Linked DNA regions of Homo sapiens: region 1 is linked to region 2. A link means that fine-mapping ties the variant in region 2 to the expression of a gene that starts in the linked region. Tissue or cell type: whole blood. Region 2 holds a variant in brackets; the other region holds the start of a gene. All regions are shown on one strand. Distances are between the middles of the regions.

What was found. PIP is the estimated chance that this variant, and not a neighbour inherited with it, causes the effect.
Region 1: LDB1 starts here. The variant in region 2 is fine-mapped to the expression of LDB1 in whole blood (INTERVAL, PIP 0.97).

What each region holds. Positions count from the first base shown.
Region 1 is chr10:102,119,410-102,121,909 of GRCh38, reverse strand. It overlaps LDB1 (LIM domain binding 1), which reads left to right and starts at 1,542. Exons shown (of 11, transcript NM_001113407.3): 1 at 1,542-1,824. The coding sequence starts at 1,800. It also overlaps a transcript of PPRC1 not described here. RefSeq lists enhancers at 1-152, 153-904, 905-1,656 and silencers at 1,153-1,282, 1,303-1,602, 1,663-1,742, 1,833-1,902.
Region 2 is chr10:102,071,733-102,074,486 of GRCh38, reverse strand. No RefSeq gene overlaps it. Among named protein-coding and RNA genes, the nearest start is that of HPS6, 7.8 kb to the right of the region's middle. The variant C/G (reference allele first, on the strand shown) is at 1,555.

The sequences.
Region 1 (2,500 bases), 48 kb before region 2:
ACACTTTAAGCCTCCGCATTTGTAACCCTCCCCCAGCCAGTCAAGCCAGCTGTGCAGACTCTGAGCCAGAGTGAGGGAACCAAACAGCCTTCTCAACCAACACCCCTCTAAGTAACAAAGAGGAGAACCCCCTACCCAGTCAGGGCCAGACGCCCTAGGGAGGAGACACTAGTCCAAGTCTCCATCGTCTATCCCTGGAGCCCATACTGAAACTTAAGAAAGAAAAGCTAGCAGCTGGGGACCCCAGGAGGGAGGGGGTCAACTCTCTACTCCAGGCGGCTCCCCTCCCTTCCCTCCTCCTGGCTAATAGGTATTTCCTGTTTATGAGGCAGCTAAAGCTGAGCTTTTGGGAAGGGATGGAGATGGAGCCCCTCCCCTCCTAGGGCTGGGTTGGGGAGTCCTTGAAGTGTGACTGAAGGTTGGGAGGCTCCTCCCAGGGGAAGGAGTGTTCCTTACATTGACCATCCACATCATCTCCCATCCAACCCCCCACGGCCCACAGCCTCTGCCTCTCTGGGTTAGGGGGCACTGGAGGGGCCTGTTTCCTGTTCTCATCTCCGAAGCCCTCAAAGGACAGCAGCTTCCAGGCAGGGGGGTCGGAGGCGGTGGGGTTGGGCGGTTGGTACGGAGGTGAAGGCACCAAGGCTGGAGAAAGGGGGGAAGGGAAGAGAGTGTCTTGACTGATGCGTCAGTCTGCAAGAAGGAAGGATGGCCTCCTATCGCCCCTCCGTAATCCAATCTGGTGGTCATTCCGCAGCCCCCTCCCCCCAGCAAAACACAGATCCCAAGCCCTTAGGCGGAGGAGGGCGGGGACCCCACTTAATTAACCCTTTTAGTTCTAGTCCCAACTGGTTTCGCAGGCAAAGGAGGAGTGGTTAATTTAGGGAAGGGGTGAGTTGAGGGGTTGCTACAAGAATTAAGAGAATGCTTCTTTACCCATCCAGCCTAGGGTAGGGACGCGAAACAAGGGGCCTCCAGAAGAAGGCTGGCGTCTCAGCAGGGAGCACGGACAGGGGGTCTGCAGTCCCTTTTCCCTCCCGGAGCGCGGCCCGGGGTGGAGAGAGATACACCACACTGCCCACCCCGGCTCCGCCTCCCCCAGCCGCGGCTCCCGCTCCGGCTCAGCCAGACTCCCCATCCGGCGGCACCCGGAGGACGGACACCGAGCGCGCGGCTGCGCCTCCAAGCCCTCCCCTTCGCCCTCCCTCTCTGGGGTCTCTGCCTCCGTCTCCTTTTTTAAAAGCTGCGTCACATGCATGCCGTTCCCCGAGCGCTCCCAGCCCCTCGCCGCCCGCCCGCCGCGCGGCGCACGCACGTCGTCGCTTGCTGCGCGCTCTCCCGGGTCACTTTGACACGGCTCTCCCCTCCCACTAGCAGGACAATTAGCATATTAATAAAGCCCGGCCCTGCCCGGCTTGGGCTGGGGAGCCGGCGCCGGCGCGAGGGAGCGCGAGCGCGAGGGCGGAGAGGGGGGCGCTCGGCGACGGCGGCGGGAGCGCACAGACACGCACACGCACACGCGCACACACGCACACACGGACACACACTCCGCGGACTCACACCCGCGCGCACACACGCAGAGGCCGCTCGCCTTCCTGCCTGGCTTCCTTCCTGTCTGCTCCGCGCCTGACAGGCCCCTCGCCGCAGCCAGGGGCCGCCCGCACCGGGCCGAGGCCGGGCCGGGCCGGCGGCGAGCGCAGCGGGGGCCGCGGGCGGCGGCGGCGGCTCATGCCCGGCCTGTCCCCGCGAGGGGCGGGCACCGTGACTCGGCTGGGCCCCCAGAGGCGGGCGATGTGAAGATGTCAGTGGGCTGTGCCTGTCCTGGTGAGTGGGGCGTGCGGCCACTCGGCCCCTTCCTGCCCAGCCGTCCCTGCGGACCCCTCACCCCGTGTTTGGCGAGAACTTGTGTGGGGGGCGTCGATGGCATGGGGGAAGCCGGGGGCTGGAAGGGCTACGCGGGGCCTCAGGCTGGCGGGTAGCGTTTTCCCCAACTGTGTAAATGCGCAGCAGCCCAGAAACACGGGGAGGAGACGCTGGGGGTGGCTTATGTGTATGTTTTTTTGGGGGTAGGCTAATTGGGGAGAGGTTTGGGGGGGGCTGAAATTCTCAGAATTCCAGGTTGTTAGCCAATCAGAAGTGACTCTGGACTTTTGACCCCCCCCCTCAGGTCACCATAGAGTTGTGATTGGCTGGTTTGGGCTGCCCCCCCTTCCCTGCTGCCCATTGCCTCTTACCTATCCTGTGACATCCCCCCCATGCTGTTTCTGAGGACCCTGTTTGCAGGGAGGTATTGATTGCGGCCCATCTTGCCCCCCACCTTCAACTTTTCCTGCCTGTTGCCAGGGAAGGTTGGCCCTCCTGAGGCACCGGAGGTACTCCTAAGAGGTGCCAGATAATTGGACCCTTGGGTCTGGCATCTCCGCCCTAGTGGGAGGGCAGGCTAGGAAATAGAGTGATTTGTGGAGAGGTAAGCTGGGGGAGCAATACTTGACCCAAAACT
Region 2 (2,754 bases):
ACTGTGGCTCCCAATAGCCTTCCCACCCCAGCAACAGGGCTCTGTAGGAAAGGCCTGCCCCTCAATTCTGAGGCTCCGGGCTGTTCCTAGAGCTTGCCTGGGGCTGTTAGGGATAAGGGCAATGCCCACCTTCCCTACTTTTCTCCAGAATAAAACAAAAATAATAGAATTTGAGATGACTGCATATCACCTTGGAATCCAAATGGCTGCCAAAGCCTGAGGACCTGAAATCTATGTAAAGCCTGAACAGTTTGCTCCTCCAGGGCCTCCAGGAGGCCCAGGATGAGATGGGTCTTCCACTTTCTTGGTGGAGGTCACCATTCCCCTTTCCTCAGCCAATCACAGCTCCTTCCCTTTTCCTCTATTCTCTAGATAATGGAAACTTCTGGAAGACCAGATCTAGCTCAGCTGCCCCATTGGCTTTATGCATTGGCCATAATTCTGGTGACAGGCCCCAAAGGACCTTCTCTCTGTGCCTTCCTTCATCCTCCCAGCATTCATACCTGAGAGCCTCCTCTGCTCCCCAGAGTGAGCAAATGTCCCTGTTTCTCCCTCCTAGGCCCCTCTCCCCATGCCCATCTGTTGTCTCTCCTTTTCATTCTCTGCATCCAGTCCAGCCCCATCTTCTTCCTCATCTCTCTGATTCTGTCTCTCCTCGCCTTTGTTCTTGCTCCTGTCCTGTCTTGCTCTTGTGCAGAGACCTTCAGAGCCAGGCCCAGGCCCTCTGTTTGGGAATTACAGGAGAAAGCACTCTAAGTCTTCTATCCACCACTGGGAGTGACCCTAGGCACTCAGTCCTGACCTCACAGCCCGATTCATTCTCTCTCCCCACCTGAATTTTTATTTAAAGCAGAAATGGGAACCCATGCAGTAATAGTGTAAGCAAAGCTTATAATTCTCATGGTCTGTGAGCCCTGAAATTGTGATTCTGGAAAATATTTTTATTGGGGGGGCTCACCTCTATTTCACATTTCGTGCATTAAGTGAGACTTTATTTATTTTGAAAAAGTCCCAGCATCTTCCTGTACTTCAAATTCATATAAAATGTGAACTTGCTATGCCCTCCCAGGAAACTCTGCTGTGTGCCCTCAACTTCCTCCCCAGTTGGACCAAATTATCTAAGTCAGGTTGGTAGCTGGAATAGACTTCCAATCCTGGAGACGAAGAATCCTGCCAGCCCAGGTCCCCTTTCTTCTGGGTGATAACCATCCTAGTACAAGTCCAGGGCCCTTTCCCTTCTCCATAATTCTGTTCCTTGAATCTCTCCTTCCCTCTTCTCCTCTCTTGCTCTAAGAGAAGCTCCATTTACTACATCCAGAGGCTTCCTCAGTTCTTAGTTAAAAATGGGCAAGTGTGCATGTTTGAGGGCAATGGGTGGAGTTGGCAGTGACAAGAGTAACCACCAGGGGGAGCCTGTGCCTAAGAAGAGACTGAGGTGGCATAGTGGAGCCACTCAGGACTTTTTCCCCTTCATTCTGGGGCAGTAAGGCTGCCAAGCATTCCAGCCCAGGGTGGCTCCTTATAGACCTGGGAATCTAGAGCTCCTTCCTCCCC[C/G]CTTTCTGGCTCTCCTCTTTTCCTGATTACCCGGGTCAGTGTGAACCAAACTGCTACATCTACACAATGTGAACACTTCCTAAGGACAGGTTAGGAAGAACATGGCCCCTGGAGGGCCTTATTATTTATTTATTTATTTATTTATTTAGACAGGGTCTCACTCTATTACTGGAGTGCAGTAGTGTGATCACAGCTCACTGCAGCCTGGACCTCCTGGGCTCAAGCAATCCTCCCACCTCAACCTCCCGAGAAGCTGGGACGACAGGCGTGTGCCACCATACCTGGCTAATTTTTTTGTTTTTTTGTAGAGACAGGATTTTGCCATGTTGCCCAGGCTGGTTTTGAACTCCTGGGCTCAATCTATTTGCCTGCCTCAGCCTCCCAAAGTGCTGGGATTATAGGCGTGAGCCACAGTGCCCAGCCTGGATGGCCATATTCAACGTAGGGATCGATCTTCCAGACCTTTGACCTCAACCCACAATTTCCACTAGCCCCTGTCACCAGTCTCTTCCTTGGAACCTCATTGACTCAGGCTTTCCTATCCCTTCTCAAACTCTCCTGGTTTGGGGATCGGGGGCACTGGGTAGTACCAGTTATGTCCATTGCTTTCACCTCCACCTCAACTCCCAAGATGGTCCGAGCTCAGTGGCTTCTTCACCCCTGCCACTGTCCTTGGTGGCTAGGTTCTGCCTTCAGATCCACCTGACTTACTGCCATCAATTTCAGGGCTGGATCAACCAAAGAGTCAGTCTGGCTTATGAAAAGAAAGGAAGAGAGCCAGAGAATCTCTACAGGCCAGAGCTTAATCCCTTCTTTTCACCCCAGGTCATAGGGCCTTGTCAGTTCCTGCATTCACAATAATAATTAGGCTGGTCGCAGTGGCTCACACCTGTAATCCCAGCACTCTGGGAGGCCGAGGCAGGCAGATCACCTGAGGTCAGGAGTTCGAGACCAGCCTGACCAACATGGAGAAACCCCGTCTCTACTAAAAATACAAAATTAGCCAGGCATGGTTGTGCATGAGTGTAATCCCAGCTACTTGGGAGGCTGAGGCAGGAGAATCGCTTGAACCCGGGAGGCAGAGGTTGCGACGAGCCAAGATCACACCATTGCCCTCCAGCCTGGGTAACAAAAGCAAAACTCTGTCTCAAAAATAATAATAATAACAATAATAATTAAACCTACTATGAACCTGGCACT